2 separate regions of the Homo sapiens genome follow, and region 1 is linked to region 2. Evidence: fine-mapped expression QTL. A gene starts in region 2. The other region holds a variant in brackets. All regions are shown on one strand. Distances are from middle to middle. Region 1 overlaps CD28 (CD28 molecule). Region 2 holds the start of CD28 (CD28 molecule).

Evidence for each region. PIP is the estimated chance that this variant, and not a neighbour inherited with it, causes the effect.
Region 1: its variant is the best candidate, but not a certain one, in a credible set for the expression of CD28 in blood mononuclear cells (TOPMed, PIP 0.76).

Annotation. Positions count from the first base shown.
Region 1 is chr2:203,730,123-203,735,447 of GRCh38, forward strand. CD28 (CD28 molecule) reads left to right here. Exons shown (of 4, transcript NM_006139.4): 4 at 4,662-5,325. The coding sequence ends at 4,790. Among named protein-coding and RNA genes, the nearest start is that of CD28, 26 kb to the left of the region's middle. The variant A/G (reference allele first, on the strand shown) is at 1,884.
Region 2 is chr2:203,703,438-203,708,805 of GRCh38, forward strand. It overlaps CD28 (CD28 molecule), which reads left to right and starts at 3,202. Exons shown (of 4, transcript NM_006139.4): 1 at 3,202-3,311. The coding sequence starts at 3,260. RefSeq lists an enhancer at 3,082-3,231.

The DNA.
Region 1 (5,325 bases), 27 kb after region 2:
GCAACTTGGGAAGCTAGGCAACTGAAGCCAATGGACAATGTTGGCTTGATCAAAAATCATGAGAAACTTGGCTACTGAAATTGTGTATTCAAACCTAGCAAAGAAACTAGATCTGTTTATCTGAGTCATATTTTTTTTTCTCCTCTGAAGCAGTTGAATTGTGTGAGGCCAAGTATGGTGCTGTCATTATGAAACTATAATGGGAGTTAGAATTTTCTGAGCTCTCACCACTGAATTGAAGTACTAACTTTTGCAAATGTTTACGTAATAAATGTGGTGTATTTTTCTTTACCTTCCTCAACATTGAATTTTTGGCCTGGGTTTGAACACATTTTGATGAACGCACCTACAGTTAAGAACGTACCCCTGAGTGACCCTTGTTCTTACTCAGAAACTTCTTAGGTACATAGTATGGTACAGAATGTATTGACTCCATGTTGTCTTTGAATTTTTTTCTAGAAGTTACATGCATGGATGAGTCATTTCTTCAATGAGAAATGTATTCTCAAACATAAAAGACTATTTCTCTTGATAGTCTCCAAAAGACTATTTCTCTTGATATTCTCCATTTGATATTAAGTACATTTGGTGCTTAATGAATGCTTATTGGATTGATGAATTGATAACCTCCAGAGAGGTCAAATTAAGGATTTAAATGAGTCTGCCTGAAGTATGATACTCATCTTTAAGGCATAATCTGTATATGTACCTAATTCATAGATGGGTCAGTGATTTCTGAAAGCCATATCATATGAAGTCATTCTGTTTACTGTCAGCTTGGTGACTGCGGGTACAGACCTGGATCCACAGCCATGCCTTCCTATTATCCAGTCTTAGATTCTTTTAGACTCTTCTTGGCCTATTGCCAAAGCTTACCTTTCAGTTGTTCCCCACATGCTCCTTGCAGTTCAGAAGACCCTAGGGCTCAGATGGACATTTGTCAGGCTGCCTGTTGCTTACTCTGTACTTGCCGCAGGGTAGGAAACAAAGTGGTTGCTTGTTCCTGGAAATTCTTTATACTAGGTATCATCTTAAGAATTTGCCTGGCTTGCCTTCTGCAAGTTGCCCAACCCTGAAGGTGGGGCTTTGGTATTGTAAAATGTTGCCTGAATTCTGCCTCTGATGTTAGTTGACTACTTTCACCTTTCCAGATCTTGGTATCTTCATCCAACTTACCTTCTAACTTTGATCCTCTGGTGTTTGCTGATAATTTTCGAGTTTTTAGAATTCTTAGTTCTTGTTTCTTCTTAATCTCTGGCCATTGGCTTTTATGCCTACCATATGGCTTTTCAATCCTCTTATTGGGAATCTCAACTTTCTAACTTAAAGGCCAGGTGCAGTGGCCCTTTGGATACCCCTCCAGGAAAGGCATTCCCCTGTGATATGCTGACCTAGGTCAAAGTAATTTACTAGCTCTGCAGAAAGTAGTTTTGGGAATTACTTTAACCTTCAATGGCCAGAGGACACTGCTCATTATTGAAAACTTATTATAAATATTCATTAGAATGTCAGTTACTATAATGAGACATCAATTTGTTGAGTGACTTGAGTCACCCAAAGGGACAAAAGCAGCTTCTCACTTTCAATGAATTTAAACCGTTCACTTTCAACTCAGACACATCATAGACACACTGGGTTTTTCCTTGGCAGTACTACTAATTCCTAGTGAGATTCATCTTGCTTTGTTTTAAAAAAATTTTATTTTTGTTTTACTTTGTCTTACAGACCCCCTGTGAATTGGGCAGTCCTGTCATTTGTGGCCTCTTGTAGTCAATTCGGTTACCCAATAAAAACTACCACTTATCTGCATCTCAAACCTGGGTCTTTGTACTCTCTTACCAAAAGAGTATAAATACAAGTTTGTCTATATTTCGTAGAATAAC[A/G]TAGTATTTTTACTCTGGGCTCATCTTTTCCTGCTGTTGGTATTTAAGCAACAAGTACCTTGCTGAGTTGGGCATCTAGGCCATTATGGATCCCTGGAGTTTAGCTGTTTCCTGGGTAATTTTCTGAGATCCTATTTTTGGCTGGTCTGCAGCGTGCCTTGATGTAAGTTGCTGTTTTCCGGAACTTCCTGAGGGCCTGATATGCTACTGTAGGCAGTTCTGGGTTGAGTGGGTTTCTAGGCTGAGCGGGTTTCTGGGAGCAGCTGCAGATTCTATCTCAGTTCTTGACCTGATGTTGACATTTGAGTAAATAAAGAGCTCCCTTTGGTCAAGCTGTCACAGGCCAGCACCTGTCACTGTCTTTCAATTCTCCATTCATGCAGCTGTGCTGGTAAAGCTGCCCGTTTTCCTAAAGAAATCTTTTTAAAAAACATTATGTTCCCCACTGCAGATCATAATGTGAGGAATGTAGATAGTGTGTGTACAGGTAGTGTCTGCTTTTTATAATAATCCAGTAGATTCTTGAAGACCACGTACTTAAGTAGATTACCTTGCATATGCCCTGTGTATTGCTGCTGTTCCCAGGAAACAAGTGGGTAAGGCTGGCATGGGGAGAAGGGCAAAGGAGGAATGGTCCAGAAATTACATATCATTAGCTGACATTCACTGTTGAAGGGGTGGAGATGACACAGACACATAGGGTAGGTACTTCCTGCACACATATGCACACATACTCAATGCACATGGGTGCTGTAGGTTCTGCGTGGTGTTTGTTCCCAGCCATGCATCTGTCATTTTCATCCCACTGCTGTGTTTAGAGTTAGGGTGATAATAAGTAAGTCTGCCATCTGACAATCACTTGAGGATAAGCATGGGAGCTGACTGCAACAGACCTTTCATTATTTTATGTGCAATGTAAAGAACCTGAGAATCAAGACACCTTTATTGCTGTGGCCTCTCTACCAGCTATGATTTGGTTTGGGTGTCCGGAGGCAGAGGCTGACACTTGGAGGTTTGGCAAAGGGAGTCCTCAGGGTTGGAGTAAGTACTAAAAATGCTTCCCAGGTTATCAGCTGTTTTCTACACTCATCTGGGGACAGACATTTCCTCGGCCTCACCCCTGCCCTGCTGTGATCTTGTGCTCAAGACAGCTCTAGTCTTTCATTTACAGAAAGGATGTAGAACCAAAACAATTCTTCATTGCATTGTAGGATGTTTAGCAGCATCTCTGACCTCTACCCAGTAGATGCCAGTAGCATCCCTCCCCGTTGTGATGATCCAAAATGTTTTTAGACTTCACTAAATGTCTCCTGGGACAGGGATTAAGGGAGCTTGAGGTGTCAAGGATGAGGTTAGGAGGTCTGTCTTGGGCAGCTGTATATATGGTAGTGTCATTCACTCAGATGAGAAACACTGGTAAAAAAAAAACAGCATTTGGGGGAAATCTTGAGTTTTATTTTAGACATGTTGAGTTTAGAGTGGCTTTGAGGTTTAGTCCAGAGATATAAATTTGGGTGAGTAGGTGGTAATTGAAGCTGTGAATGTGGATAAGATTGCCTAGGGAAAGAGGATAGAGAAGAAGGCCTAGGACCAAGCAGTGAGAAATTCTAACGGCTGGTTAGAGAAGGATGAGCTTGCAAAGGAGGCAGGGAAGGAGTGACAAGACAGGTAGGATAAAAACTGGGATGTCATAGATGGCAAAGAGAAATAGTATCACAAAAAGAAGAGAGTTATCAATAGTATAGAATACTGCTGAGAGTTGAAGAAGATGAGGACTTAAAACATGTTAGCTGTGTTTAGTAACATGGAAGTCAGCGTTTTTCAAACCTTTCTTTAGCACTTACTCATGCCCCTTTGACAAGGAAGGTGTGAAGTGCTCAGGCAGGAGTGTATGGAAACAAAACCAGGGCTGAAATCATTCACTTATTTATTCATTCAGGTATCATGTCATTCATGTACAGCATTATCTACTTAGGTATCAGCCTGTGTGCCAGGAACTAGGCACTTTTTTCATAATAGAGAATTCTGAATCCAGAAATCTGATGGCTTTCTGTTTTTAGATGTTTTCTGGGTCATTTGTTAAGAAATGTAGAATTTTACTATCACATTGATTCAGAAATGATGTTCCTAACCCTTAGTCAAAAATTTTGCTAAGATTCATGGTGGGTGAAACTATTGCCCTTACTTCCCTCACTTCTGGTGGAAATTCATCCTGATGGAGCCAAGCCTATGAAAGAGAGATGAGTGTAGAAATACATACCCATAAAGACATAGGAATGTACTAGTTGTCTAGAACTGTAAATTGCCATTAGTTTGGACTCCACCTTTACAAATTTGTGATTATTACAGACTCTGGAGGAGTTGAAAGTCCTCTTCGGTTAATTATGGAAAAACAGCTTGTTAAGCAAATGCTAATGTAAGAAGATCACAATGTGGGTAGGCTTAACCTAGTCAAAGGAGGAAGGGCCTTCAAGTGTATTTACATATCAACAGTGGATATGTTAATTAGTGTGCATTTTTAATTCAGGTCAGATGACAGCATTGAGAGTAACAGGGATGCATTTCTCTAAAATACTTTCTTTGAGATTTTTCAAGTTCAATGTGAAGAGTCAGTAGTTGGGTGTGATTAGTCATTACCCAAGTCCAAGGTGCTCAAAAAAGGTTAGTGTTTTAGTGTCTCTGTCATTTGACAGTTAATATTATGAATAGTTGTGCCCACAGTCTTAGAACTCCTTCCATGACATTGTCCCTCCATACTGACACTTCTCTTTCCTGCAGGTGAGGAGTAAGAGGAGCAGGCTCCTGCACAGTGACTACATGAACATGACTCCCCGCCGCCCCGGGCCCACCCGCAAGCATTACCAGCCCTATGCCCCACCACGCGACTTCGCAGCCTATCGCTCCTGACACGGACGCCTATCCAGAAGCCAGCCGGCTGGCAGCCCCCATCTGCTCAATATCACTGCTCTGGATAGGAAATGACCGCCATCTCCAGCCGGCCACCTCAGGCCCCTGTTGGGCCACCAATGCCAATTTTTCTCGAGTGACTAGACCAAATATCAAGATCATTTTGAGACTCTGAAATGAAGTAAAAGAGATTTCCTGTGACAGGCCAAGTCTTACAGTGCCATGGCCCACATTCCAACTTACCATGTACTTAGTGACTTGACTGAGAAGTTAGGGTAGAAAACAAAAAGGGAGTGGATTCTGGGAGCCTCTTCCCTTTCTCACTCACCTGCACATCTCAGTCAAGCAAAGTGTGGTATCCACAGACATTTTAGTTGCAGAAGAAAGGCTAGGAAATCATTCCTTTTGGTTAAATGGGTGTTTAATCTTTTGGTTAGTGGGTTAAACGGGGTAAGTTAGAGTAGGGGGAGGGATAGGAAGACATATTTAAAAACCATTAAAACACTGTCTCCCACTCATGAAATGAGCCACGTAG
Region 2 (5,368 bases):
GTAATTTGAAGTTAGGTAATGTGATACTTCAAAGCTTTGTTCTTTTTGCTTAGGATTGCTTTGACTATTCAGCTCTTTTTGGATTCCACACGATTTTTAGGATTGCTTTTTCAAATTCTGTGAAAAATGACATTCTTTTGTTCTGACAATTCTTAACCCCACTTCAGACCAGTTTTCTCATCTGTAAAATGGAGATAATAATAATCTTCCTCACAGGTTGTGTATTAAATGAGATCTGGAATGTAAAGTTCTTAGTATGGAAATGCTATTATTTTTACTGAAAATGTTGTAGGGTCTCAGTATCCTGTGTATTGCCGGATTTAAGGTCCTTATTTTATTTCTGTCATTTCTACCTCTTGGTATATGTGAATGCTATTGGATTTCAAAAGCAAATGTGAAAGGATTCTAATGAAATGGTTTGCTTCTTTAGTGTCATACATGTTAAAACATAGGAAGGCAAATGTCAAAGTTTGTGTTTCTTTTTATTCTATGGAAAGAAAATTAAATATGGCTCATCAAATAATAAGGCCAATAATATTTAATTATTGTTTTGTGAATTCGTATAAATGAGCTGACCTCTCTGGGCTGCAGCTTCCTTCTCTGCAAGATAAGGGAATTAGGCCAGATGAGTGAACTGTTTCTTTTTCAGCTAAGTTTGACCCGATTACTACTATTTACATAGTATTAACTAGATGCTATGTAGTCATCTTTAATATGCTTGAAGACAGTTATTAACTCACTCCTTAGCCTTTTGTTGTTGATCATGGAAAACTACTGGGTATCTTTGTTTCTTCTGTGTATATTCTCAGTATGTATAATGAGTCTCAGAGCCTCTTGTTTTAAGATCTGGGTAGGCTGGTGGCTCTAGAATATGGATGACCTTTTAGGAAAGGTCACCTTGCCATCTGTAAATTTTCCCCCAGATAGACTTCAGGCCCTGGGGAAGGCATGGGTTCCCCTAACTGGATAGAGGATCAGAGCCAGGAAGACTGTGTCAAATTCTAGAAGTGAATCTTCTCCAGGACTCAGGGCATAGCTTTGTCACTTACCTATAGTTCAGAAGTGTGAGTGAATCATTTCCAAGGACAAATTTCTCCAAAGGACCAAAAGATGTGTTAGTAAGAGGGGTTCACAAAGACTGTGTTTGTGGGAAAATTGAAGTGTGAACAAAGAAGGTCTACCAGGACAGGAAATACTTTTGATCTGTCATTTATCAGATCAGGAGGGAGGGACATGAAGCCTGCCTCCTCTTACAGCTAGGTCATCAAAGAGTTTGACTGTAGCATTTTAAAATAGCGAAGAAAAAAAGGTAACAACACTAGGGGTTTGTTAAACAATTTATGATATAATTAGAGAATGGAATATTATGCATCAATTACAAATAATGTTTATAAAGATACTTAAATGACATGGGAAAATGTTCAAGATATAACAAATAATAGTACATATCTGATGAAAACTATAAGTAAAACATGATATTAAACATGTAAAAATCTTAACAGACCAACAGGTGGAAGGCAGTGGACCAGAATATTAGCAGTGTTTATATTAGGGTGGTAAGAATGTGGATGAATCTTGTTTTAATGCTTATAATTTTTCTAAACATTCTCAATGAAATATGCCTTACTTTTATAGTCAGAATAAAAAGCAATACAAGTTATCTTTTAAAACAACCCACATACACAAAACCCCCAACTAGAGTAATTGCACAAAGCTTAGATTATCAAAAAGAAGAAAAAAATTACTGGAAAAGTTTTGAAGAAGTCATTGAGTACAAGATACTGACGTAGGTGCCGGAAGAAGAGAGCAGTTGGCCGTGCTGGTGGAATAACCCTCTCTGCAAAGGGCCTGGGAGTTGAAGAAGGGTGCAGTCGGGTGGTGGTTATGAATCTCAGAAATCCTGCCACGGAGCCTCCTTTTGTGCCCTATTACTTAACCTTGAGGGACATAGAGAGCATGAGACACCAAGGGGCTTTTGGTTGCCTTACTGTCCCACTAAGAACATAGAATGTTGTTTTGACTTTCCCTTTGCTTAGGGAACCTCCCCCAGATACTCAGCTGGCTGGCTGCTTGCACGTAGAATGGGTTTTGCAAAGTTCCTAGAAGTGAGTTGGAGGAGGCTTGACATAAATCAAGCACTGTGTGCTAAATGCTCCAGAGGGCTACCTTATGTCCTACACAAATGTTACATTTCTAATATTTGTAACTCCTTTAAACGTTTATGCAGATGTTTCCCAATTCCTCAGTAGAATTCTTACCATTATCTTTTTGACACAACCTGTCCCCATCCTATGAAAATCTCTCCTCTGCTAGAGACTTTATTCTTTCTTTCTCTCTCTCCCCCTTCCTTCCTTCCCTCCCTCCCTCTTTCTTTCTTTCCATCTTTCTTTCTTTCTTTCTTTCTTTCTTTCTTTCTTTCTTTCTTTCTTTCTTTCTTTCTCTTTCTTTCTTTCTTTTCTTTCTTTCTTTCTTTCTCTTTCTCTCTCTTTCTTTCTTCCTTTCTTTTTTCTCTCTCCCCTTCCTTCCTTCTTTCCTTCTTTTCTTTTCTTTTCTTTTCTTTTCTTTCTCTCTTTCTTTCTGTCTTTCTTTTCTCATTCTGTTGCCCTGGCTGGAGTGCAGTGGCATGATCTCGGCTCATAGCAGCCTCCACCTCCTGGGTTCAAGCGATTCTCCTGCCTTAGCCTCCCTAGTAGCTGGGATTACAGGTACCCACCATGATGCCTGGCTAATTTTTTGTATTTTCAATGGAGACGGGGTTTCACCATGTTGGCCAGGCTCGTCTTGACCTCCTGGCCTCAAATGATCCACCCACTTTGGCCTCCCAAATTGCTGGCATTACAGGCGTGAGCCACTGCACCCGGCCTGTTCCTTCTTAAGAACACTTTGTCTCCCCTTTAATCTCTGCTGGATTTCAAGCACCCCTTTTACACAACTCTTGATATCCATCAATAAAGAATAATTCCCATAAGCCCATCATGTAGTGACCGACTATTTTTCAGTGACAAAAAAAAAGTCTTTAAAAATAGAAGTAAAAGTCTAAAGTCATCAAAACAACGTTATATCCTGTGTGAAATGCTGCAGTCAGGATGCCTTGTGGTTTGAGTGCCTTGATCATGTGCCCTAAGGGGATGGTGGCGGTGGTGGTGGCCGTGGATGACGGAGACTCTCAGGCCTTGGCAGGTGCGTCTTTCAGTTCCCCTCACACTTCGGGTTCCTCGGGGAGGAGGGGCTGGAACCCTAGCCCATCGTCAGGACAAAGATGCTCAGGCTGCTCTTGGCTCTCAACTTATTCCCTTCAATTCAAGTAACAGGTAAACAATGTTAATGTCTTTCTTTCTGTAAATATTTTTTGAGGTCTTCCAATTGGCTTAGTTTATTTTAAATTTCTAACAATGTGTGAAATTTGAACATTTGAAGTGTAGTTTTGCTGTAATAGGGCAATGTGTTATTTTGAAAATCATTGATTCTCAGACTACAATATAGTATCTTAACAAAAGTCCCTTGGAAATAAATTTTCTAAGCTATTAGTTTCTCTAGCTATTAGTTGATAGTGTCCCAAGAATTTATTATTATTATTATTATTTTAAATTGAGATGGGGTTTCACTATGTTGCCCAGGCTGGTCTCAAACTTCTGAGCTCAAGCAATCCACCTGCCTCTGCCTCCCAAAGTGCTAGGGTTACAGGCATGAGCTACCATGCCCGGCCAATAATTTTTAATTTATGTATCGTTTCTTTCTTTCTTTCTTTTTTTTTTTAATTTAAGAAAGCTGCTGTAAGTAGATTGGCTCTGGAAGCTCTGAATTTAGGTTGCCTATGTTCCTAACACAGGTCCAATTCTCACTAGGTAAGCTTAGGCTTAGCTATTATTTAAACTCTCCAAACCTCAGTTTCCTTAACTGTAAAGTGGGAATAATAATAAACCTCACCTCAAGGTCATTGTGAGGTAAAATGAAATAATCCATGCGAAGGGCTTAGCTCAGTCAGGCTTCAAGATAAATGTGAACTGTAATTACTCTATCTACCTGAATTGAATGAGTTCCAACATGAATTCTGGAGTCACCACAGAAGCTGCTACAACACCAATATTAATAAATTAGTTTTCTTTTACAATCGGCCAAAATGTATTTTCTTAGATTAAAATTCTTTAAGTTCCCAATGACGATGATGAGGAGGATAATACATCTAGCACTTTGAGCAGCACACAGTTCTCGTAACTAGAAGGTAGGTATTACAGTTAACTTCATTTCAGATGAAGAGACTGAGGGGTAGGCACATTAAGGGATTTGCCCAAGGATGTACAGGTGGCAGCTATAGGAGGCAGGGTCTGAACCACCTTAGTCTGACTCCAGTGCCGGTGTTGTTGATTATTATGCTATTCCATCTAACATGGTGTGATTTGTAATTTCATGGACTCAGGTAAATCCAGGGTTAAATTAACTTCGGAAAATCACAAGCACAATTCCTAACAGAAAGAATTTGTTACTTGGGTGGGCTGGAGTAAGATGCTCATTCAACGTGTTCTCAGAGTTAGAAAAAGGCCCCCGCTTGGTTCAAAAACTGGACTGATAGGGGTCAACAGTCATGCTTAAATAAGGACAGTTATTTTTCCCTGAAAGATACATTGAAAAGCCAGTATCCTCAATTTTCTTTCTTATTTTGGCAGTACAGAGACTGCATTATTTGTTGTTATTCTTAAACATTAAGTGTACATAGCCCAAAGAGTATAATTTCCCAATCTGCAGAGGTACAGTAGTTGCATATATACCCGTTTATTTTATGGTCTGACGTACCAGTGAGCACAAATTGTGTATATTTATAAAACGTGTTGATATAATGAAAGACATGAGTTGGCAATGAGATCTGGTACCAAGCGTTTACAGCTACCAAATATATTCTACAAGAATCTTTAACATTTATTTTAAAAAGGTCAAACCTTATTTTTAAGAGATCTCTCAAACTTAAAGAATATTTAAAATTACTTAATTTGTTAGACAGTCAAGGGAAGCCTACCCTGACTGAAAACTATTTAAAATTGGTAATTGTACACTAAATACTTTTCTGATGTGCTTTGTGGACACCTATCTGTCATCAACTTATTCACTCTCTTTTGAAGAGTTTTTGGTAAGACTCAAAACTTTGTATGTTTTCTTTAGAACATTTATTAAAAGGGGACTAGCTAGATAAGTGGTTGGAGAGTTCACACACATAGGGCCTTTGTTTTCTACTTTGACATATATTTACTTTTCAAATGCCAATTCACTTTTCTAGTAACTTTTAGCATTTGATACTGAGTGGCTATCTAATGAAGAAGGAAAGAGATGGGAGTGAAGGGGACACTTTTACAGTCTTTTCCAGTAAGAAAACTTA